Regions from separate parts of the Homo sapiens genome. Here all the other regions are linked to region 1. The links come from fine-mapping of genetic effects on gene expression. A gene starts in region 1. Each other region holds a variant in brackets. All regions are shown on one strand. Distances are between the middles of the regions.

Region 1 (5,107 bases):
GTTACTAAGGATTATCTGTCACCTTCCCCCTTTTTGATTCTGTCCCTCTTCAGGGATATCTACTTCTGAGATTTACACAGTCCCCAAAGCTGCAAAATGCACGACCCAATGCCAACCAGGGTCTACATTCAGGCTGTCTTAGACCAGGTTTCTCCTGGTCACCCCATTATCCATAGTGCCCCTGGAGGAGATCACTGCAGGAGGCAAAGCAGTTCCTTCTGTGCAGGGTTCAAGCAGAAGTAGAGAGGAGGGCTTTCCTCCTTTTTGGTACTGCACTCCATTTCACTCCTTGCTGCAATTTTTTTTTTTTAAGGCTAAATTTCACTTTTGTCACCCAGGCAAGAGTGCAGTGGCATAATCTCAGCTCACTGCAACCTCCACCTGCTGGGTTCAAGTGATTCTCTTGCCTCAGCCTCCCGAGTAGCTGGGATTACAGATGCCTGCCACCATGTGTGGCTAATTTTTGTATTTTTAGTTGAGGCGGGGTTTCACCACGTTGGCCAGGCTGGTCTCAAACTCCTGACCTCAGGTGATCTGCCCACCTCGGCCTCCCAAAGTGCTGGGATTACAGGTGTGAGCCACTGTGCCTGGCCCTTTGCTGCAATTTAACAGTCCTCCAGTTTTCACTTTATGTCTCTGGCTCCCACCACTCAAATGTCCACTGCTCAGATAGACAAAGCTGAGAGACAAATGCCCTGTAGAACTCCTAAGTTCTCCCTCCACTGGCCTCTAAGCTTTTGTGCTGGGTCAGGCTAATTTGCTTGACTCTTTTCCAGTGACTTCTCTTTGGGGAGGCTCCCCAGCCCCTTTTGCAAATAGATCCTTCCAGATAAGCCCAGACATACTGAATCCCAAGTGGAGGCTGCTATGGCTCAGGGTCAGACATTGAGTTCCCAGTAACTATTTATTAGCCATTCACTATGTGCTAAACACTGGGGTTCCAAGGATGATGGTCTCCTCTCATCATGGAGCTGCCTTGGGAATTTAGACAAGAGCTCTTTGAGCAGTGATGGCCTTTACCCCAAGGAGGGGTACCTCCTGCTCAAAGGTAATACCAAAGGTGCCAACTAATCACTGACTTGGCAGAGAACCTCTCTCAATATAACTAGAAGTTTCATCAAAGTTTCTTAAGCACTCCACCATTGACTGCTCTCCTTCACCATCCCCCAGGTTCTTACTCAACCACGTGCCTCTGTCTGCTTCTTTCCAACTTGTAGCAGCACCTTTCCTCTTCTATTCTTTGTTCTTGTCCTGGATGTCATTCCCTTTCTCCCCTCAGAGGCAGAGAGGAGAGGGCTGCTGGAGGAAGAAGAAAAGTGAAAAAGCTGTAGAAATTTGCTTCCACAATAAACAATACCCGAAAAACCTGTACATTCTTTTCTTCAACTTAAATGAAGAACCCAAGTGTGCACTCATATGAAGTAAAAAAGGTGCAAATAGGCCGGGCACGGTGGCTCACGCCTGTAATCCGAGCACTTTGGGAGGGCGAGGCGGGCGGATCACCTGAGGTCGGGAGTTCGAGACCAGTCTGACCAATGTGGAGAAACCTCACCTCTACTAAAAATACAAAATTAGCCAGGCATGGTGGCGGGCGCCTGTAATCCCAGCTACTTGGGAGCCTGAGGCAGGAGAATTGCTTGAACCTGGGATGCGGAGGTTGTGGTGAGCAGAGATCACACCACTGCACTCCAGCCCAGGCAACAAGAGCAAAACTCCGTCTCAGAATAAATAAATAAAAAAAATACAGTTCCTTTTTTTTTTTTTTTAAAGAAGTACAAATAGCTTTGCATGCAATTTATGAATTTTTTCCTGATTCTGATCGCTGGTGTTCAGTAGGAAAGGGAATCAAAACTCCATAAAGCAAATCAGCTTATCTGTAGATAACCAAAGTCTTCTCAGTGGTGTCTGTCCCTCTTGTGAAAGTACAGCTGCTTGTGGGAAAAGTGAGAGACCTAGAATACAGTGTATCTTTTGGGGGACATACCTCTGACTGTTACAGAAGCATGTGATTAATTTGGAAGGTAGAATTTCGGAACATCATATTTTAATAGGAAGCTTGAAAGGTAAGTAGAGGAAAACATCAAGCAAAGCAAAATACACCATTTGCAGAGTTCAATCAGATATGACTCAGCATTTCTTCATTGTGCTCATCCCCAGCTCCTCAAGCACATAGTGCCTTGCACACAGTAGGGGCTGAGGGAAATATTCGTTAATGCATTAATTTTAGTTAAAACTAGATACCTCCTAATCTCTCAGTGGCTTGAACTGGGTCAAACAGCAGAGGAATGGGGTAAATAAGGAAAGACACCCGGTAAAGGTAGAACAAGACCACTGCTTAATAAATATATTCGTTTTTGGGGTTATTATTTTGCTCAAAAGTCTATGAGGTGACCAACCCAGAATGTGGCAGTTAATTCTATTTACATTTTCAGTGTGGGATCCAGGTTTTCAAGTTTGTTATGTGATTTTATGCAAAACAATATGCAAATCCAGCGCATTCTAAAAATTCAGTCTGCTTTCCAGCCGCTCCCCTGGTCACAAACAACTAAGGTTGGCGCCGGGCTCTCTGGGATCCTTCGCGGAGGGGCAGAGCAGGCGGGGGTGACTGGCAGCGGGGCGGGGGAAAGGGCGGTCCCGGAGGCGGTCCCGGGGCGGAGCCCGTGACGCGCGGAGTCGGCCGGCTTAAGGGCCGGACCTCAGCGTCTCCCGGAGTCTGGCCGCAGTCGCGGCAGTGGTGGCTTCCCATCCCCAAAAGGCGCCCTCCGACTCCTTGCGCCGCACTGCTCGCCGGGCCAGTCCGGAAACGGGTCGTGGAGCTCCGCACCACTCCCGCTGGTTCCCGAAGGCAGATCCCTTCTCCCGAGAGTTGCGAGAAACTTTCCCTTGTCCCCGACGCTGCAGCGGCTCGGGTACCGTGGCAGCCGCAGGTTTCTGAACCCCGGGCCACGCTCCCCGCGCCTCGGCTTCGCGCTCGTGTAGATCGTTCCCTCTCTGGTTGCACGCTGGGGATCCCGGACCTCGATTCTGCGGGCGAGATGCCCCTGGGACACATCATGAGGCTGGACCTGGAGAAAATTGCCCTGGAGTACATCGTGCCCTGTCTGCACGAGGTGGGCTTCTGCTACCTGGACAACTTCCTGGGCGAGGTGGTGGGCGACTGCGTCCTGGAGCGCGTCAAGCAGCTGCACTGCACCGGGGCCCTGCGGGACGGCCAGCTGGCGGGGCCGCGCGCCGGCGTCTCCAAGCGACACCTGCGGGGCGACCAGATCACGTGGATCGGGGGCAACGAGGAGGGCTGCGAGGCCATCAGCTTCCTCCTGTCCCTCATCGACAGGCTGGTCCTCTACTGCGGGAGCCGGCTGGGCAAATACTACGTCAAGGAGAGGTCTAAGGTAGGACGCGCTCGGCGCCCTGCCGCAGCTGCTCCCGCGGGGACGGGAGGCACTCGGAGTCCGTTGTATGTCGACTTCCCAGGGCCGTAAGCGAACTTTGTTTTTTAACCAAGAAGTCAGCCTGGTTTGTCTCTACTCGCTGCTTCCCCCCACCCCTCGCCCCAGCTCCTCTGAGCGAAAGTCAACGTTAAGGGGCTCAGGTGAACCATGATGATGACCTTCTGTTGACTTTGAAATATTGGCTCTTGTGGGTGACAAAAGCCAGACAAGCTGTGGCTGTGGTCCGATTTTAAGACGAGGTTCTCAAAGATCCAAAGGAGGGAAAGGGTATTGGAAACACTGTGTATCATCTGAGACACACGTGTCCTCATGATCTTAAATGCCTACTTTAAAGCCACCTAATACTGCCCTTCATTGTGGTCAGAAGAGATTTCTACAAAAGCACTCAGAATTCTGGAGGCAGTTGTGATTTTGCCATGTGGCAGTTGGTTTGTGGAGTTGGGCAGGTGTGAAAGGGTAAAACTCCACTTCTGAATGCTGCTTCTGCCCCCTGGGACCCAGCACATTGTTAGACCATCTTCTTGACTGAAAATTCTCTCCTGATGCTGAGCCCTGCACCACCACCTTCCTTTTCCTAACTATGAATTGATGGCAAAGTCCACTCAAAACAACCAGTTAAGTGCTCACGAGAGAGTAGTCAAGCACCTCCAGAAAGAAACCGGGTTTTTGTTCACATAGCAGGAAGTGACTCCCTGGGTGGTAATTTATCTTGGAAACACAGGTAGATTGGCAGAAAAACGGGAACATGTAGGTACCGCGATGTTGGTGCATGTCCATTACTTTGGGATAGGCTTTCTCAGTCTTTCCTCAAATGATAGTTGAGCCAGTTTTCCAGTGGCAATTCTGAGTGACTTGCGCTTGTCTTATGGTGTGGTCAAGGGACGTTCAGAACTACGGAAAACTTTTACTGAAACAGCGAAGCAGAGTATACCGGCATGAGAGGGAAGATGAACACTCACCTATGTACCACTCTTTGACAATAAATATAGTATTTCTCAAATCAGTCTCAAGACTGATCCTGTCTCAGAACAGACCATTGTTCTCTCATTTCTCTAATACGCTGAGAGGAACACTCTGAATAAAGGCTAAGTGGTGAGGATTGGAAACGTGTGGGAGTGAAGGGGTGGAGGTGGATGAGTGCAGTGGGGAGTCACAGTTTGCCGTACAACTTCCAAGCCAAGAGGCCATGAATAGAATATCTGAAAGCATCGTTATTAATGCACCCAAGTAAAGTAAATCTTAGAAGATACTGCTTTCTAAATTTTACTTTGGGGAAAAAAATTCCGCGTGAGCTGAACTCTGTAGGAGATTGATGCTAAAGTGTTTCTTTATTCTTCTTCCATCATGTTGGTGGTGGATTAGTCACTCGTCTTTGACTAGTTTGATTTTTGCATTAAATGACCTTGCTGTCTTCTGTGGTGGAGGTGTGTCGGGGAGGGGAAGGGTCAGCCTCAGTGTTGCTGAGATGCTGGTAGTTTCTACCTGGAAGAGCAGACGGCTTCTTATTGGGTTTTTAAATGTTTCTTGTAAATTTAGGTGTTAGGAGTTTTTCTTCATCATTCTAGGAGCAGAATTTGCTCTGAGGGAGGTCAGGATTAATTGGTATGGAAAGAGGCCACTAACATTGAAAGTTAAATATTTTTATTTAGCTTTGA
Region 2 (5,107 bases), 250 kb before region 1:
TGGAGGGGGTGGAAAAGATGGTAGTAGGAGTGGTGGAGGTGGAAGTAGTAGAGCTGGTGGTGGAGGTTATGGTTGGGTGAAGGTGATGGAGATGGTGAAGAAGGTGGTGAAGGTGGTGGAGGAATTGGTGGTGAATCCAAGGTGGAGGGAGAAGAGTTGGTTGGGGCGATGGAGGGAGAAGAGTTGGTTGGGGCGATGGAGGGAGAAGAGTTGGTTGGGGCGATGGAGGGAGAAGAGTTGGTTGGGGCGATGGAGGGAGAAGAGTTGGTTGGGGCGATGGAGGTAGAAGAGTTGGTTGGGGCGATGGAGGGAGAAGAGTTGGTTGGGGCGATGGAGGTAGAAGAGTTGGTTGGGGCGATGGAGGTAGAAGAGTTGGTTGGGGCGATGGAGGTAGAAGAGTTGGTTGGGGCGATGGAGGTAGAAGAGTTGGTTGGGGCGATGGAGGTAGAAGAGTTGGTTGGGGCGATGGAGGTAGAAGAGTTGGTTGGGGCGATGGAGGTAGAAGAGTTGGTTGGGGCGATGGAGGTAGAAGAGTTGGTTGGGGCGATGGAGGTAGAAGAGTTGGTTGGGGCGATGGAGGTAGAAGAGTTGGTTGGGGCGATGGAGGTAGAAGAGTTGGTTGGGGCGATGGAGGTAGAAGAGTTGGTTGGGGCGATGGAGGTAGAAGAGTTGGTTGGGGCGATGGAGGGAGAAGAGTTGGTTGGGGCGATGGAGGTAGAAGAGTTGGTTGGGGCGATGGAGGTAATAGAGGTAGTGAATGTCGTGGCTAAGAAGGTGAAAGAGGTAGTGGAGGTGGGTGGGAAGGTGGCTGAGATAGTAGAGGAGGTTGAGGTGGTAGAAGTAAGATAGTGGCGGAGGTGGCCGGGGAGATGTATTTGAGGTGATGGAGAAGGTTGTGGAGTGAGTGTAAGTGGAGATGGAAATACCTGTAGTGATAGCCCAAAGTGATAGGGTTTGTGGAGTCATCTACAAATATAAATATCCACTCTTAAGTCAGAGTGAAACAAGTGCACCAGCACGCGGGAGAACAAGCAGCCATATGTACTACTTAAAACAATTTTCTGCTTAGGACTTTCAGATATTTTTCTCACTAGTTTAATGCATTTTTGCCTTGAATCTAAAATTGTTTTTGTTTTCTTAGATGAGTCAGAGAGCAGTTGATGCCCATTCATTCTCACTGTAAATGCTTTCTATCCGCCAGACTGGACCAAGCATGGGCAATCAAAAATGAAAGAGACTTAGTTTCTGTCTTTGTTGAAGACACAGACCCATAAGTGATAATTATAACACAGTGACGTTAAATGCAATGACGGAGATGTAAACAGCTATGGAGGATGATAGACAACCAAGGTGGGGAGTGTTAGGGACAGAGGAAACTTACTGGAACAGGTAATACCTTAAGGATGAGAGAACTGGGGATTAGTTGGGTGAAGGGGAAGATGAGCATTATAGGCAAAAGTAGGAAGTAGGAAACAGTTTACAGTAAACATGTAGCACAGTAACTAGTTCTCTAACTTTAACTTTTCCTGCTGTCTGCCGGGTATGTTCAGTTCCTTGCATGATTTTGGAATTTAGAATCAGATTTGAAAGCATTCATGGTTGCAAAAAGTAAATTGTAAGTGTGCAGTCAGGGTCTTTTAGTGCTTTTTTTTTTTTTTTTTTTTGAGATGGAGTCTTGCTTTGTTGCCCAGGCTGGAGTGCAATGGCGCTGTCTCGGCTCACTGCAACCTCTGCCTCCTGGGTTCAAGTGGTTCTCCTGCCTCAGCCTCCCGAGTAGCTGGACTACAGTCTCGTGCCACCACACCCAGCTAATTTTTGTGTTTTTAGTAGAGATGGGGTTTCGCCACATTGGCCAGGCTGGTCTCGAACTCCTGACCTCGTGATCGGCCCGCCTTGGCCTCCCAAAGTGCTAGGATTACAGGCATGAGCCATTGTGCCTGGCTGATCTTTTGGTACTTAATGGTGAGATGTTCAAAAGTATAGACAATAAGGGAGAATCTCACAGTTGGTGCCACCAAATTCTTTAAACTCACCCGTTCTTGTAGCTAGAGAAGTGAGTGGGAAGACAGTTCAAAAGGATAGACAATAAAGGTGAATCTCACAGTTGGTGCCACCAAATTCTTTAACCTCACCCATTCTCGTAACTAAAGTGAGTGGGAAGATAGAATCTGAATAATTTTTCCTATCAGTGGAAGCAAGACAAACAGTATTTAAGCTGGGATGGGTGGGTGGGTATGCAGTATCTGTGCAGAAGATGAGTTGCTCACTCAGAGAAGACCTGATATTCAAGGAAAAGTCAGCCAAAAACGTGAGTCACTCATTAGCCTCTTTAAAAGGTGGAACATGCTAAGGCGGGGAAGGTAAACAGACTCTTGCTATGTTGGATTAAGATGTACCCTTAG[A/G]TATAACTCTTCTCTGGAAATGAAAAAAATTCTCTAAAAAATATAGCACACATATCCTTGACCCAATTAAAATATAGCATTTCAAAAAGGAAGCAGATAGCACATGGTTTGTCAAATAAATGACTCAATAGAAACGCATGAAATATATTTGAATAGAGATTGCCAAATGTTGTTTTTTAAATAAGGAACTCATTAAAGTCTATGAAACAGACTTCAGAAATTGATTTCCTGGAGTGAATACCACAAATGATTCTCCAGAGCCCACGAAGAGGAAGTTTTCTAACCTATTTCTCTGGACCACAAGTTGTCCTGCAAAGGGTGAGAAGAGAGGGATGTCACTGTTTTTCTAGTTCGTGGTGCCTCCATGGTGAACTGAGATGCTCAGGGAGGCTAGATAGTGGCTTGATGCTGTTTATGCAGAATTTCCAACTCAGAGAAGGCCTCCCACCTCCATCTGGAAGACTTAGTATCTTTGCCCACCTACCTTTGAAAGCAGGATATGGATTGCACAGGAGAAAATATTGGAAATTGACCACTGAACCACATATTTAAATTCATTCCTGGCTCTTTCTTTCCAAATAGCAATTGAGTTTGATTATTGTGATTCGGCCATCTGCATCTCATGTTTATAATTGTCCACACTGCCACTGTCTGAGATTTTCTCAATTAATATTATTAAGGGGTGGATATGTGATTTTCTGGATGGTTCAATTTACTCTTCTGTCTTGTTTTGATAAGAAAGTGGCTACCTGCAAGCACTAAGGGGCTTTTATCGGCATTTCGAATTTTTGCTTGTGAGCAAATAACAGGAGAACAGAAATACTCTCCTGGTTGCCTTTCAGAGACAGAATTCTGTTTAATTTGCAAAACCATTTATAAATTCTCAGTATTAACTCAGCCTTTCTTGCCTGCCTTACAAAAGCAGCTCTTAAGAGATAAAGTGTTTGGGACCCAGTGGGAAAGATTCCAAGCTCATACTGCCAAATCTCCTGAGTTATCCTGACTCCTATCTGAGATTTGGGGATTTTTCTGTAAGAAGGAGGAGTGTGGGATTGGCCCCCCTCTGGAACATAGATGAGAGAGTAAATTGACTTGTCTGTTTTTCAAAGATAATTGTGGGTTGTGAAACTAAGCTAAGTAGGTAGCAAAATCCTACGCAGATTACAAAAGAGATTTTCCATCTCTGCATTACCACACGTAATTTTAGGCCCTGAAGCAATGTCTGGTGGGCCAGTTGAACGTGCTAGGGCAATTGTCTAATGACTCTGACAGAAGTGGTGGCTGGGATTAGATCATGAGTGATAGATTCCTAGAACTGGAAGGGACTTTAAAGATTTTCTAGGCAAACCCTTTTGCTTTCCAGTTGAGGAAACTGAGGCCCAGAGAAGCTTAGCTATTTCAAGTGGTTACCATGGTAATCCTGATTGCTAGCACTGTGCTTTGATGTGGGGTGACCCTCAACTAGACCTCAAATAATGGCTCTGCTGCCTTCACTGTGGATGTTCCCCAGAACACATGTCATGGGTGACACTGGGACTCCTCACAGCTAGTCCTGCTACTCAAAGATCACAAAGCATCTTGCTCTCATTTGTTTTGGCCACACCTCAGCTAAGGGGGCAATATTTTCTCTATTAATGGACTCACAATATGTGGCTCTGCCAGTAGTCAGAGGGATTCTCAGTGGGGACTTGGAGAGATGGGCCTGCACTTGTGCCTTCCATCCCAAACTCCCTCTTTCCCTGGGATTCTTTCTCAAGCTGAGTGAAAGAGCATCTTGGCTCTGGGATTTCTCCTTTGCTGAAAGGTTGAAAACACTGGTGGAGGTCTTGGTCAAGTTAGGCAAATTCTCTGCACTTTTGTTTCTTATCTGTAAAATAGGAAAAATAATAATTCACGAGGCTTGTTGCCAAACATAGTCCTGAGTGCAAGGAAGGCAGCTGATAAATGTTTATTCTCTCCTTTGCCTTTTATAATAAAATATCTGAATATTGCTGGTTTCTGATTAGTCTAAAGAAAGTTATTTAGTTTTGTCTATTTATGAAGATAATACCTCTTCCTTGTAGAAAATGAAACAATGCTGAAAATCGTGAAATCCCCTGAACAGTTACTATCTAGAGATAACTCTTCATACTTTTGCAACATTCTTTCAGTCATCTTTCTACGCATCTTTGTTTATATTTGTGTTCAAATCTATAATTTTACATAAAATGAAATCATAGTAGAAACACTCTTTTGCAATCTACCTTGTTCACTCAAGAGGTCAGTTCAAAGAAAGCACTAATAGATATTTTCTGCCAGATGTTTGTCTCCGCTGTAGGACAGAATGAACAACACAATCTCATCTCACAGATTGAAACTTCACTAAGACCTATTTGGCACTCTTCTCTCCAAATGTCCCTTTCCTCTATCTCCTCACTAGAGAGAGAATATGTCACTGGACATATACAATGCAATTTCTGGAGTGTGCGAAAGATTTGCCAACCAGGGAAGTTTTCTGCTTTTATTTACCCTAACAAAAGCCAGGATAAATAAATGATGTCTACTCTATAGTCTCTCCTGCATAGTCCTTTGAATCCCCTTTGTTGGATCCTTTTTTTATTTTCTGTGGGACAAACCTCCAGGGAAGGCACAGATTTTTGTGTACTGTAGCTCACTGGGTCTTACTGACCTGTAGCTATGGGTGGTCATTGTTTTGTTTAGACTGA
Region 3 (5,107 bases), 67 kb before region 1:
TCAAGCAATTCAGCAAATATTCAGGCCTTAATCATTTCAGTTATTGGAGGACAGTGCCATCTGGAAAGTGAACTCTCTGGAACTTACCCTCAAGTTTCCCTGATAGAAAGACGTTCTAGGAATTGTCTTTGTCTTTGGAAATTCCTAGAATTAGCTTTGCTTTATGTTCAATATAGCTAATTTCCCAGTCTCATGGCAGACACTCAGAAAATGAACAACATGTTTAAATTGTTGCAAAGATGAAAGCAACAAAGATGAAAACAAGGATTATTACTAAAGAACCGGTTTTAATTTAAATTTCTGAAGAAATTTTACAAAGTGCAGGAACACGTGAGGTAAGCTGGCTCCTTGAGTTTGCAGTTCCTTGGAGAGCTGATGCTGAAAGCTCATAGCCTTCCTAGTGCCAGGTGGGATTCTGTGGATTTTTTTCACGTTACTTTTATGAGACAAACCCATGGATGTCAACCATGTGACACAATATCCATGACTTTCCTGGCTGTACAAATAGTTCTCTAATTTGATGCTAATAATAGGACATCTTTTTTCCTTGGGAAATACTGTTTTTTAGGCTTAACACTTCAGGCACACCCCTCCCCCTGGGAAAAAAAAAAAAAAAACCCAGTTCAATTTAATAATGATTTTTGTCTGCCTATGTTTATTATATCTGGACCCTGATAGTACATTTATCTTCTGTCATGGAGTTGAGACAGTATCTATTCAGCTGGTTTTCCAGCCCCAAACTTAAGTAGGATCCTTTACCTGCAAAACATGGGGCTGGCCTTGCGTTTAAAAGCAGTACTCATGTTTCAGTTTCCAATTTGAAACTTAGGAACTGCTCTTTCCAGACTTGAAAGTTTTCCTCCTGACCAGCTATTATATACCGCCTCCTGGGACTTTAATACAGATCTGTCATTCCTTCTAGACCTCGAACTCCTTAAGAACAAGGACAATGTCTCACTTATCTTTGTATTCCATAGCTCATTACGTAAAGGAGGTCTTTAAGAATTATTTGCAAAATCTGTATTGCATTCTTATCCTAAAAGTTTGTAAACTGGACCATCAAATGTAGATTTCCCTGTGCAAGGAGTGAAAAACAGCAAGTACCATGTATGCAAGTCTCAGAACTTGACTTCTCATAATTATTTTTTAAAACGAAGGCAAACCAGGCTGGGCACGGTGGCTCACACCACGCCCAGCCTGGTTTGCACAGGCAAATAGGGTAAGTAGGTTGCTTAAAGTTGTCTAGAAATTAAGTGATGGTTCAGATTCAAGCCATTTGGCTCTAGATCCACATTCATAATCCCTTTGCCATCTATTCTTAGCTTACCTTGTTCAATTTTCTATCCTGAGTCCCTCTAATAAGTTCTCAGCTTCTGTTTTTTCTTTAAAATCGGCACTCATCTCTGATTTATCACCTCTCTTCTGTCCCCTCGCCCCTATTCTCTCCCTCCATTTTCCCTTCTTCTCTCCCTTCTAATTCCGTTCGTGATGAGAACCACATTGTGTACCTGAAATTTATATTTCAAGCAGCTTTCTATCAGCAACCAGGAGCTTCCTGTACACGTTGCAACTTTAGAGAACACAATGCAGATGAGAATTATAAATCTCTAAGTGCGCATGTTCTTCCTTTTATGATGGGTTAAAAGACAGTTTAAAAATCACCTCCCATTTTGAGCTTTGAATCTGAGCTGAGAAGGATAGTAAAAGCAATATAAAGAAAAGGAAATCAACTTCAAAACCGGCCCCCCGCTTTTCCCTGTGAGAAGGCCACTACAAATTGTGGAGATGCTTCTCAAATGCAATTAGATTCTGCCGCTGCCTGCCGCGTCTCTCCACATTGCATCACTGTTCTCGAAATCGCTGAAGCCTCTCTTGGGACACTAGATAATCTGAAGAAAGAATAGAGTGTTCAGGCAACACAAGTTCTACAGAGAACTAAGGCACACCGATTTGCATTTCTGGGTCAGCATGATTTCACTTTCATTTAACCCTTGTACTGACCCTTGTTTTCCAACGCGTTGGCTCTTTCTGCCGTCTGAGACTGTGTGATGTGCTGAAGCCAAGAAGGTAAGTGTCCCTGGCAACCCGAAGCCTGCAAACCTCTCTCCAAGCCCCTCTTCAAGCTTCCCACCATCATTAAGGTCCTTTCAGTGAGGAATTGGCCAACATTTTAAGTGTCTCTGGATGCAGGTTTTATTCACGTTTAATAAGGTAGTTTTGTGTGTTAATGGAAAATGAAATGAATATTAGAAATCACATATTCAGATATGCTTGTGGCTGCCAGAGTTTTGCATTT[C/A]CTGCGTGGTTGTTCATCTTTAATGTAATGAGAATAGTAACGGAGAACAACGGATGTTATATTCTCTTTCTCTCTCTCTCTCTGGTAGGAGTCATGCTGAGAATCCCTTGAAAACCCACAGTGTGTCAGAAAGACAGACATGACATATATTTCTCTCGTCTTATTCACAGTATAATTTCCATTAAAAGGGAGCAAAGACCCCCAACAAGACTTAATTGCTTGCAACTTAACAGGTGTAGGTCATTAGTTGTTTATGTGCAATGAGGTCTACTTGGCTAGAAGAACCTTGTGTAAAAGTAAAGGTGCATTGCAAAATTTAAAGTGCTGGATAAATGCTAGCTATGAACCCAATATTAAAATAATTGAGATGACATGTTGATTAATTATTTGCCCAAAAGAGGTTTACCTCAATCAGTAAGAATAATTTTATTGCTTTTTTTCTTAATTATAAAAGTAATAGCCGGGTGTGGTGTCTCACACCTGTAATCCCAGCACTTTGGGAGGCCGAGGTAGGCAGATCACTTGAGTTCAAGAGTTTGAAACCAGCCTGGCCAACATGGTGAAAGCCGATCTCTACTAAAAATACAAAACAATTAGCCAGGCATGGTGGTGCACGCCTGTAATCTCAGCTACTTGGGAGGCTGAGGCAGGAGAACTGCTAGAACCTGGGAGGTGGAGGTTGCAGTGAGCTGAGATTGCGCCACTGCACTCCAGCCTGGGCGATAGAGCAAGACTCCATGTCAAAAAAAAAAAAAAAGAAAATTAATAGTTGTATGATATGTGAATGCCATCTCAACAAAGCTGTTTTTTTATGAAATTATAGAAAAGACAGGTAAACAATGGGAATAAAATCAAAATCACCAATAATCCCAGTTCCCAGAGATAAACCACCAATAGCATGATTTGTTTTACTATAATTTTCACTGTGTAAATGCAAAACTGAAGTGATGCAATAGTGTTGAAATCTCCCTTTCCTTTTCTTTCTTCCTTTCTTTCTTTCTTTCTTTCTTTCTTTCTTTCTTTCTTTCTTTCTTTCTTTCTTTCTTTCTCTTTCTTCTTTCTTTCTTTCTTTCTTTCTCTCTCTCTCTCTTTCTTTCTTTTTTTGAGACATGATCTCACTCTGTCACCCAGGCTAGAGTGCAGTGGCACAATTGTGGCTCACTGCAACCTTGAACTCCTGGGCTTATGCTACCCTCCCACCTCAGCCTCCCAAAGTGCTGAGATTACAGGTGCATGCCACTATGCCTGGCTCCCTTTTCATTTAATGTATTATAAACATTAAATATTCCTCTGCCTCCGCGTAGTGTTCTGCTGTATAAATGTTTTATAACATACTTAAGCAACCCTCTATTTTTGGATATCTAGGCTGTCTCCAAGTTTTTGATAATGTTTTTGATAGCTGTCTAATGAGCATCCTTGTAGCTATATCTTTGAGCATATCTGTGATTATTTCTGAATAAATTTCTAGATATCTAGTCATTGAATCAAAGAATATGCACCCATCTAAGGCTTTAAAACACACATGACTCTGTGTCTGTGTGTGTGTGAGTGTGTGTGTATCACATAGGAAATAAATATTAGAAATCACATATTCAGATATGCTTATGGCTGCCAGAGTTTTGCGCTTCCTGGTTGTTGTTCATCCTTAATGTAATGAGAATAGTAATGGGGAACAACGGATGTTATATTCTCTCTCTCTGGTATGAGGTATGCTGGGAATTCCATGAAGACCATTTCTTCATGGTCCATTCCATTTCTTCATTCCATGAAGAACCTTCAGGAACATTCTTCCGTAGATTCTTAATGAAGCTAAACATTGTTTCAAATGATTATTGTCCACTAAATATAAATAAATATAAATATATTTATAATATTTATTATGTATCTAGATAAATACATATACATATATTTGTATATGTTCATATAAATAATACTTATATAATATATGTGTATATATAATAAATTTGAATCAATACCTTTTAGAAGGTATATATGTAGATGTATATATACACACACGCACTCACACTACATTTATACTAGCAGTGTATATCCTTGCACTTATTTTTATATACATTCCCCAACATTAAGTATTTAAAATTTTTCTTTCCAATTGCTCTAGTGAAAAATGACATCTTATACTTGTTATAATTTGTACTCCTTAGATTCTTAATGAAGTTTAATGTTGTTTCAAATGATTATTGGCCATTTCAAAATTATTTATGTCCTTTGACATAATTTTTTTCTTGTTTATCTTTTCATTAATTTGTAAGATTTTAAACAATTGAATATGGCTATTAGTTCTTTGTTATCTTTTTTATTTGAGTTAAACAAAAAACTCCACTGAAATGAAAGTGATGCACATTTTTCTTTAAAAGAAGAGCAATTCAATTTTAACTTTAAAAGAAGTTAAAATCAGTTACAGGTAAACAAAGCGTACCCCTGACCGCATACACCTGGTGTGTATATAGGTTTAACTTTGTACATTCCTGAGTTGCTTTCTGGAAAACACTTCCAAATGAAAAGCCAGATACCATCATCTTTACAAGTAACTGTGATGTTATTTTGAGATAAATTATTACTTTAAGTTAAACAAAGGAAAATTACCATTTTTGAGCATTAGCCAATCTTATAATCTCCCTTTCCAAAGAAGCTTAATTCAAACTATTTTTAAAGGTTAGTTTATGCTTTCTTTTAATTCAGCGGCTTCATGGGTGCCATATTTTTTCTCCATTTTAGCAGTAATCTAAATTGAGACAAACATAGGTCAGAATTTTGAACTCAAAGATAAATAAAAGGAATTCCAAAGACTGA
Region 4 (5,107 bases), 260 kb before region 1:
AATCGGATCATCTGATTTTCAAATTGCTGGATCTATTGTTTCAGAAATAGAGGATGTAAATAATTTCAGTGCAATCTCCTGGATCTGGACCTCTCTCATCCAGAACTGTTATCAGCATTAGCATAATTTATGGTGCTATCTAATAATGAAATCACTGAACACTGATTGTACAGCTTCTTAAAGCTATAATTATTGCTCATTAGGAATGGATTTCATATTGTTTGCTCCTGGCACATAACAAGTTATTGAAAGAAAAAAGTTGTCAGTAGAAGTGGGAAACCAGGAAAGGCACTTTTTTTTTGTTCCTGAATGTTATCTCTGATGAATCTGTCTGAGATTTTGTCTTTAATTATAACGGAGAACAACTGGCCACATCATTAATTATCATATTTCTTTTTTAAGGAAAATTTTAGCTTCACATCAGATGCCTTTTTCAGTCTATGAGGTAGTAAGTGCTCTGTAAATGTTTGTTGACTGAATGACTGTGCAGGGAAAGCAATGAATGAAGACAAAAGCCACAATTTTGGCAAGTTAAACTCTGAGCAATGTCCAGCTCATACCAAACATTAACATTTCTTCCTTTCTTCCTTTCTTCCTTTCTGCCCGCCCGCCCGCCTGCCCGCCTGCCTGCCTGCCTTTCTGTCTGTCTTTATTTCTCTCTTTCTTTCTTTCTGAGACAAGGTCTCACTCTGTCATCCAGGCTGGAGTGCAGTGGCGCAATCTTGGCTCATTGCAACCTCCACCTCCTTGGCTCAAGCGATTCTCCTGCCTCAGCCTCCCGAGTAGCTGGGACCACAGGTGCACACCACCCCACTTGGCTAATTTTTGTATTTTTTTTTTTTTTGTAGAGATGGGGTTTCACCATTTTGGCCAGGCTGGTCTTGAACTCCTGAGCTCCAAGCGATCCACCTGCCTCAGCCTGCCAAAGTGCTGGGATTACAGGTGTGAGTCACCACACCTGGCCCTCCAAGAGGTTAGAGTTGGCAGTTTTTTAGGGGCATGAATCTGAAAAAAATAATCTTAGCTTATTCATCTCAGAACATCTTAAAATGCATTTTCTAAAATTACAGAGCAATACTTGCTTTTTCACTGTAGAAGATAAAAACAATACATGTATAGACTGAGTAAAATATGGGAGCCCCTTTCAGGTACTCTGATTGATCCTCTTCCTGAGGTAATGGCTATTCTTAGTACAGTATATGTATCCTTTAAGCCCTCATGTTTCTGGAAATATTGAGAATTCATTGTCTGGGATAATGCAGGAAAAAAAAAAAAGGTCTGCTTTTGTTGGCTAACAATAATTTCCGGATGGACTATGGGATTGGAGAAAGCTTGGTTTTAAATCTGATGATGGAGGTTTAGTTAGTGATTTCTATGAGATACAATGGTTGGGGAGAATTACACATTTCAGCATGGGAAGGAGGAGTAACCATTATACGGTTTGCAAAATAGGGGTCACTGTCAATGTTTATGATTCTAGGAATGGGGAAGGGGGCTTATCAAAAAAGACTTAAGTTCATTGTGAACAGTGCCTTTAGCTTGTGATGGCATCGACCCCAATGGAAGGTAGCTTGGCTTTGAGATTGGTACAATGTATTTGGCCTTTATAGGTTGAATGTGACTTCTGTGTTTGTCAATTAACCCAGCCTGGTGATTTATCCAGGGCTAGACCAGATTTTGTATGCTGGTATTTTCCTACACAGTTCTAGTTTCCTTGGGTCTTTTGGCATGGAACCTGAAGGGGCTGAAGAAATCACGTGAGTATTTCTTTAATAGATTCGTTTCCTTACTTGTTGATAACTGCTCACTTTTCCTTAAATATCCTCTTATCTAGGGCCTTCTAGTCCCTGAGAGTACAGGGAAAATGTCAGATATGCAGAGATAAAGAAAATCTTATTCTTTTACTGGAATTTTTCAAACTTTAGTAAAACTGTAGAAATGTTTAAATTGCCTTCCAATTTCTGAAGGAAATTGGTTTCCTTTAACGCTTAACGAGATAAACTGCAATTCGATTCAAGTCATTTTTCTGCCTCTCCTTGTTGACAATCTGAGCTCCGTTTTTTTGGTTTCCTCCTGCTTTCTGATTGACTTCAAGATTGCATCTAATCTTTTTATTCTATCTTGCACGAATGCAGCCTGCAATGTGTTGTGACAAGGAGCCAGACCTCCTATTAGCATATATTTATACCTTGCCGCACGCAAAGTGGTGCTTGGGGATTATTAAACCAGGCTGGAGCTCTGAAGGGATATAAATGGCATCAGATTCGCCCCCTCCCCACAAAAAAGCCCTCCATCTCAACTGTCTATCCACGCGGAGATCTAATTGTTTGGGGAAAGGGACAAATGCGGGGAGCTGAAAGAACAGTTGTGGATGAAGTTACTGTGATGGAGGAATGATCAGATAATTGCAGGCATGGGAGACGCAAGTGATGCTCATTGTCCTCGAAGGGCCTGGAGACTCCTTGGAGGAATTTTAAGGCCACACTGTGAATCAGTAGATAATATGATCAAGTTAATCTGCTGATGAAGTACTGGAATGTGGACAGTTCTGGACAGACATCTGGGAATGAAGAGCTAGGTGAGAGGTGTTTATGATTTGTGGGATTCAGAATATGAATTCACAGTCCTAGATATCAGGGGATGAAGATGGGGACTAGGATTCCAAAACAGGGTCCCTTCTGAGATGACTTGAGGAAACAGGCAATATTGCTTCAGGTTCTAGTTGTTTTTCCAATAAATAGAAATCAACAGAGCAAAGCCTGAACAACATTGTAACACATGCCTGTGTTCTTTGGTGTTCCAGTTTCTTTCAGTGGGACTCTTGGGGCTCCCAGCTCCCAGGGTTTATGAATCACTAACCTCTATCGCCTATCAAAACTG[G/A]TGATCAACTGATATTAGTCATTCACACATGGGTTTGACCTAATTTCCACTCATGCTAACCATCCCACAGCACTTCTATTTTAAGCTTGTTTTCTCTAATTGCAGAAAGACTGGCTTTGTCTCCACTGAAAGAAATTTCCAGCATTAGTAAAAAGCAAAAGAGACAATTTGGGGGAAGGGAAGCCTTTTTAGTGATTTGTATGCTAGGGAATTGGTCCAGAAGAGAAAGTACTTTTCCTCTCTTGACTCTCTAGTAGGTCTCGTACCCCTAGGATGATGAGTCCCAGTGACTTTCTTGGGAATTGCTAAGTTTTGAGAAATTTTTCGTTATGACATAGTATCTCACAGCCTTGAATACATCTGCCTTTTCCAACTGTCTGCGAGCACTCACAGGGTAGGGATGGTGTCTCATTCATCTGTATTTTTCCATTGATCGTTGGTGTTCAATATACAGTTTTTGAGCTGCACGGCATAGGAAACACAGGTGTCACTATTCTACACCTTTACCTGTTTCAGCCTTTGTGATAGGAAGTCAGACCCAGGATGCCATTTGGGTTGTATGCGGGGAGTATATTGGGGTGGGCTTCACTTCACTTTGTTTATTTCTCCAGGTACTAGGAGTGGTGAGCTGACCCTCTCTGGGGTCCTCTCTAAGGGCCCAGGACAGCTGTCCTAGCCCGTGCCTGCTTTTCACTAGGCAGACTCCATTGCCATCTGTCTTTCTCTGCCCAGGTTGTACTTGCCCCTTATTTGGGGCTTTCCTTTCCACTCTGGTAAGATTAAGGATTAACTTAGGCAGAGGGAAGAGTCAGAGAAGAGCAAAGAAACTCCTTTAGGCTTGGCCTAATTAGGTCTGAGTCACTTAAGAAAAGGGAAACCACAGAGTGTTCAGAAATTACTACTTTGCTTTCCTTTGTATACGTCTCCCTTGGGGATGTCCTTTGGGGATCCCACGGGCTGCAAGGTATCTGGGCTAAAGTTGGATTTAGGAAAATGAAACACTTGATTTGACTATGGAAAATGCATGTTTCCAGGCAGGAGAGGAAAGATTAGGTAGGTAACTAGATAGGCTAGAGTTCTTTTGCTTATGAGTGTGTTTTGTGGAAATTACAAACTTGAAATGTGTGTGAGGAATAAGTAACAACCAATTTTACAGTCACGTTCAAACATCTAACTCCTTAGACATTTGGGAAGTGGTGTGGGGACTGATCAGAAGCTGCCGAGAAGACACTTAGATTCTTGTTCAGGGGAGGGATGTAGATATTGATAAATGTTAGACATCGTTAGGAAAAATGAGCATAATATAAGTATAGGTTAAAGAGTTAGGGCAACCACCACAACAATAACTATAGAATTATGACATTTAAATCAGCAGAATAAAATGGAGACTATTTAAAGAAAACCAAGAAAGAGAAAAGAAAGAAATAAAAGGAAAACATGGCAAATAGCACTAAATAAGATAGCAAAGTGTCAAAGTAACAGTAATTATAGTAGATACAAGTGAGTTAATGTGAACAACCAACAGACAGAAAGAGTTTTTAGACCCATGATCTGGACAGATGTTATTTATAAGAACCATAAATTTTAAATACAAAAGGATATAGACCGATTGAAAATAAAGGAATGGAAAAAAATACACCAGTTATGTCTGAAGCAAAGAAATCATAGGTAGCACTTAATATCAGAGCAGATAGAATTTAAGGTGAAAAACCTAATAAGGGACAAGAAACATTACATGTTGGAGATATGACACCATCATCATGAACATATGTGCTGCTAACAGATCTCAAAATATCAAAAGCAACAACTGACTTAAGAGAAAAAAATAGATCAATACTTATGGTTAGAATAAAAACAAACCTTTTTGGAAAATGAAAAAGCAAATATATAAAATATATCTGAAAAGAGATCAAACAAATACATAAAATATGTGATTTTCAGGCCTGTGTAGGTATAAGTAAAAGAGGAAGTTTAATTCAAAGGCTCAGCTTCATCTAGACTATGTTCTTTGAATATGGTGTGATAAAACTAGAAATTAATGACAAAAATGAAAGCTAACTAAATAAACAATGTGAATGTGGTAAACTAAAAATTATATCTAAAAATTTCCTAAGGTTTTATATATAAAGACGATTTCAAAAAATGTGTTTTCAGTATGAGGCCTGTGTCACTTCATATGTCTTTTCGTCCAGTGTCTGGTGAATTCATTTTGTGGTATAGCAGGTAG
Region 5 (5,107 bases), 100 kb before region 1:
AGTGACACTTGTTTAAATGACTGACTGTCTAGAATGCTAGTTGTCAATGCTTAACTAGAATAATCATCAGGCACTTCTCTCCAGCACTTAAAAAGCAACCCCTGACATTTCCCTAACAGGGATACATTGCAAATTTCTGTTTTGGTTTGTGTTCCCTTGCCTGGTAAATTAGTAGACTCAGCTGTGATGAAACAACAACAACGACAACAAACCTCTAGGCTTATTCTTTGACAAATGAATATTGCCAAAATGAAATACATAAAAGTTGTAGCAATCTACAGTTCTACCATCAGTTTATATCTCACTGCTTTTTTGGTGCAATGTGTCTTGACCTTTGTTATTTAATGGATTAAAATGTGGGATAATTTTTTGCCTATTAAATTAGGTAGACTGACCTTTTCTTTTTTGAGACAGAGTTCTACTCTCGTTGCCCAGGCTGGAGTGCGATGGTACAATCTCGGCTCACCACAATCTCTGCCCCCTGGGTTCAAGTGATTCTCCTGCCTCAGCCTCCCAAATAGCTGGGATTACAGGCACACACCACCACACTCAGCTAATTTTGTATTTTCAGTAGAGATGGGGTTTCTCCATGTTGGTCAGGCTGGTCTCAAACTCGCGACCTCAGGTGATCCGCCCACCTCGGCCTCCCAAAGTGCTGAGATTACAGGAGTGAGCCACTGCGCCCAGCTGACTGAACTTTTAAATACAAATGTGATGATTTACATTTTTTCTTATCTATTGAGATCTTAGCGATTTTCTTATTAGTCTGTATGACCCTTTTATACACTAAGAATATTGCAGAGTAAATTCTTCATAATACTTTTAAAGTGAATCCCTGCCAGGAAGATCTTCCTGCAACACATAATTTTGATGTATTAAATTTTTGAAGCAATTGTGCATTTAAATTACTGCTGGAGGTGTTCTAAGATGGAAGGGGTAGTTTCTAGCTACTGGAAATATCTAAGTAGAGACTGTTTGATCCCTTGGGAGGGATTGAAACATATGATGACAGGTTGGACCAGTGCTCTTTCGGTTCCCTTACAACCTTGAGATTTTGTGATTCCATAACCTGTCCAAAAATAAAAGGCAATAAGGTTTTTTTTGCGGGGGGGGGGGGTGGGGTGGGGTGGTAATTTTCTTTCTATTAATACTCTGTAAGATTGACAGGCTCCTACAGAAGTCTAACAACTAAGAGAACCAAAGAATGATTTTCTGAAGCTACTGCCTTTATTCACACTTTTAAAAAGCCCAGGGTGGTTGAAGAGTGTGAATGTGCTTGGCCTTGCAGCTGTGTCCTGGCCCTTTAGAATTTGTTATCAAAACAAAACATGCATTTCCACTGGAAGTTTTTAGAACATTGATTTTGCAAACTTTTTCTAATTTCACTTTTGGTTTCTTCTGTGTAGTAAAATCTGTAAACTTATATTTTGCATATTTATTCTTTGTCAATTATCTGTTGTGTAGATTATTACGTATTTACATACACACAGCAATGCATACTTGTACACGAAAACCATGTATACACTATTTTATGGATAATTTAAGGGATTTTTTTTCAAGTGACTGCTTTCAGTTATGTGCTAACTTTGGAAACTACCACCAACATAAAAATCTGCTCTACTGAGGTATCCACCTAGATTTTTATTGTGGAAGTGCTTAATTCCTGTGTCTTGACATTTAGCATAAATGACATAGAGCTCATTTTACATCTATTGTGTAATGTGAGAGCTGTGTTCTGACAGCTCCTGTATTTCCCTTATTGGAATGTTCATTGTTCATTTGTAACTGCATATTTAATCTTTAGTCTCCTATATAGGCTACAAGTTTTGGGGGGCCATGGGGAGCAAGGGGACCTGATCCTCTGGTATCCCCAGAGTTTAGTGCTTGGCATTCTATAAAATCTCTGTTGAATTGAATTGAATGTAATAAATTACATGTAAAAACTAGATAGGAAAAAGCGCAAGAGGCTGTGGACTTAGTGTGAGGTCAGAAAGCTGGCTGAAAAACTAAGCGATCTGAGCACCTCCTAGAAGCTGGGCACTTAGCTGGCCTATCACCTGCCTTATCTTACTGAATCCTCACAACTTTGTTTTGAGAGTTTTTGTTTCTGTTTTGTTTTTATAGAAGAGGAATCCATGGTTCAGAAGGGTCAATGAACTTAGTCAACTGGTAAATGGTAGGACTGGGAGTTGCTCTGAGTTTATGGTGGCTTGAAAATCCAGGCTCTTTTCTCTTGAGTAGGATGCCTGCAGTATGTAGTCTAGTCTTGATTGGGGCAGAGTTGGGGAGGGAAGATGTGGCTTTAGGAAAGGACCTGGCTCCAT[T/C]AACTTAGCTGAATTTTGTCTTTGTAATCGCTCCTCTCCACACCCCTTCCACTTCTCCATGCCCTCAGCTTTACTCCCTTCACCCCGTCAAGAGTCCAATGCTCTCATGATGCCTCCCCTCCTTACAGTGAGAGCTTCTGACCTTCTTTTCTAAACAAGCCTCAAACTCTGTCCTCCCCATCCAGCTATAGTCCTTAGTATTCTACTTCTATTTAATCTAATAAACTCTTCTGGGGAGAAAAATGGGAAATTGTTGTAATGTTTCCCATCCTTCTCATGTGCTTTTTTTTTTTTCTTTTCTTTTCTTTTTCTTTCTTTCTTTCTTTTTTTTTTTTTTTTTTTTGAGACAGAATCTTGCTCTGTCACCCAGACTGGAGTGCAGTGGCACAATCTCAGTTCGAGTAATTCTTGTGCCTCAGCCTCCCAAGTAGCTGGGATTACAGGCATGCACCACCAAGCCTGGCTAATTTATGTATTTTTAGTAGAGATGGGGTTTCACCATGTTGCCCAGACTGGTCTTGAACTCTTGGCCTCAAGTAATCCACCAGCCTCAGCCTCCCAAAGTGCTAGGAAATCAGGCTTGAGCCACCGTGCCTGACCTCACGTGCTCTTTTTAAATACAGATGCTGGTTGCAGGACTTTTAAGTTTGCTGGGGGAGCATTTGGGCAACAGGATAATTTGTCTCTTCAAATAAAATCATAGCAGGCAGCTACTTACTATCAAGGCACAAATGACTCTCAGATCTCAGGGACAATAATAAGGGCTAGCATTTCATTCATTGAATACATTCACGTGAAGGGCTACTGTGTGCTGGTGACTGTTCTAGGTGCTTTGTGTATATTAATTCGGTTAAATCCTTCTAATATCTCAATGACGTAGGTGCTAATGTTGCTCATACAGTTGGTGAGGGGAGAGTTGGGGCTGGGAAAGGGGCGAAGATAAAAAGGGAAGCTTTCAACAGTGGCTTGGGAATTTGACTGGAGATGAAACAAAAAATCAGGTTAGCCAGTGAACTGTTTCTAAATCCATTAAATAAAGACCTAGTTTAGACTAATGAGAGTAAGGAAGAATTTGTGTGAGTGCTTGCGCCAAGCGGGCAGCTGCCAATTGTTGAAGCAGGGCCTGCTCAAGTGTGTGCCCCAAGGAGCAGGAGGACCACTGGAGGGATCTGCTGCTCTGTGGTTCATTACAGGTAGTTTATTATTGGGTGGAACTGGCCGGAAGTTGAGCCAGCCAGGAGGGAGTGCAGAAGAGGAGTCTGCCAAGGGATATTGTGGGGGAAGATTCCAGGCTGGGAGAGTGAGCCAGATGGAGGGAGGAAATGAGCTTTTCCTGCTGGGTGGATTCCATCCACATGGAAATCCAAGTATGGGACTCTGAGAGTGGGAGGGTTGCAGGAGAGGGCCTGGTTTTGACTGGGAATCCCAAAGGCAGGACTGCTCCTAAAGTTAGTGGGTGTGGATTCCTGGGAAGTCTCCTCATCATTACAAAGCATTTACTGTGTTCTAAGCTGTGTTAATTCTCATGAAGGAGTGTTTCTGGAAATGAAATTTAGAAGGTGTGAGAGAATCATTTTCTGGGTGAGTGGCTGAAGCAGGCAGCATACTATGATCAACAAGGTGATCAACTGTCCTGATTTGCCTGGGACTGTCCTAACTTTTGCAATAAAATTCAGTCCCCCCTTCAGAGTACCCAGGACTCGGCTCATATGCCAGATCCCTGTAAAGGCCTTTCCTGACCATTATCTGAGATACTATCCTACCCTGTCCCCAGTGCTCACATCCTGTTCCCTTCAGAAGTACTTTCTCCATAACACTTACCCTTCCTTGCAGTCATCTTGCTTATTTGTTTATTGTCTCTTATCCAAAACTAGAATATAAGCTCCAGGAAGGCAGGGACTTTGGCTTTTCACTGTTGTATTCCCAGGGCTTAGAACAGGGCCAGGCACACAGAAGGTGCTCATTATATGGTTGTTGAGTGAGTAATTTTTTGTTTTTTTTTTAGTTTCAAGCACTGTGCCCAGCTCTGGATATACAATGGTGAGAAAAATCAGAAATGGTCTTTGTACTCATGAAGCATAGTGGAGGAGAAATACATTAATAACATATTTCCACCTACACAAGTAAAATTACACCTGGGATGAAGGAACAGCTGAAGAGGGGCCTGAAGGAGAGGTGCTGATGCTATGAGAAGATATGATGCTGGGTGGAGTCGGGGCCCCGGGGCCAGTGAAGGCTTGTCTAAGGAAGTAATGATTGAGTTGAGTCTAAAGGATGAAGAAGAAAAGGCTTTCTAGGAAGCAGGAACTGCACATGCAAATGCCCTGCAGCAGGATGGACCAGGAGTGTTTGGAATCCACAAACAGGCCCTGTGGTTGCAGTGCCCAGAGCAAGATGACTCATGACGCTGCGGGGAAAGGCCGAGGGGCAGGCACAGCCAGGCCACTCAGAACCTTGTACATTGGAGACCTTGCTGAAGATTTGGCTGTTTTTCCTAAGAACAGTGAGAAATCACTGAAGGGTTTAAAGTGTGTGTGTGTTGGCTGGGGGTGGTGGGGGGCAATCAGTCTTTGACGTGACTATTCCGTAGACTACCAGGGTTCCTCCATCCAAGTGGCTAAATGGTTAAAATAGTTAAAATTAATTAGGGAAAGGACAATGAAAATATTAACAATTATAAGAGGTAGCTCTTATAGTCTTAGTTCTCTTTTGTCTGCTGATGGAATAAATGTGGTATCAAAGACAGAAGAGTGGGGAGCAAAATTTATGGCCAAATAGATTTT

Which allele goes with the higher level. Positions count from the first base shown, and alleles are read on the strand shown. Sizes are in standard deviations (SD) of each study's normalised expression. Not every link is listed here.
For the expression in unexposed skin of the gene that starts at base 2,714 in region 1, A is the high allele of the variant in region 2 and G is the other (small effect, 0.35 SD a copy in GTEx).

Evidence for each region. PIP is the estimated chance that this variant, and not a neighbour inherited with it, causes the effect.
Region 2: its variant is fine-mapped to the expression of EGLN3 in unexposed skin (GTEx, PIP above 0.99). The same link has a PIP of 0.9 or more in sun-exposed skin.
Region 3: its variant is fine-mapped to the expression of EGLN3 in whole blood (INTERVAL, PIP 0.93).
Region 4: its variant is fine-mapped to the expression of EGLN3 in whole blood (TOPMed, PIP above 0.99).
Region 5: its variant is fine-mapped to the expression of EGLN3 in whole blood (INTERVAL, PIP 0.95).

Annotation. Positions count from the first base shown.
Region 1 is chr14:33,948,681-33,953,787 of GRCh38, reverse strand. It overlaps EGLN3 (egl-9 family hypoxia inducible factor 3), which reads left to right and starts at 2,714. Exons shown (of 5, transcript NM_022073.4): 1 at 2,714-3,392. The coding sequence starts at 3,036. RefSeq lists a silencer at 2,577-2,656 and an enhancer at 2,777-2,946.
Region 2 is chr14:34,200,860-34,205,966 of GRCh38, reverse strand. LOC102724945 (a long non-coding RNA gene) reads left to right here and starts at 2,239. Exons shown (of 9, transcript XR_001750942.2): 1 at 2,239-2,308. The variant A/G (reference allele first, on the strand shown) is at 2,403.
Region 3 is chr14:34,015,561-34,020,667 of GRCh38, reverse strand. The region is part of intron 5 of LOC102724945 (a long non-coding RNA gene); the gene reads left to right. Among named protein-coding and RNA genes, the nearest start is that of EGLN3-AS1, 22 kb to the left of the region's middle. The variant C/A (reference allele first, on the strand shown) is at 2,297.
Region 4 is chr14:34,210,563-34,215,669 of GRCh38, reverse strand. No RefSeq gene overlaps it. Among named protein-coding and RNA genes, the nearest start is that of EGLN3-AS1, 170 kb to the right of the region's middle. The variant G/A (reference allele first, on the strand shown) is at 2,881.
Region 5 is chr14:34,052,370-34,057,476 of GRCh38, reverse strand. All of the region lies in intron 2 of EGLN3-AS1 (EGLN3 antisense RNA 1), which reads right to left. All of the region lies in intron 5 of LOC102724945 (a long non-coding RNA gene), which reads left to right. Among named protein-coding and RNA genes, the nearest start is that of EGLN3-AS1, 15 kb to the right of the region's middle. RefSeq lists an enhancer at 2,144-2,193. The variant T/C (reference allele first, on the strand shown) is at 2,325.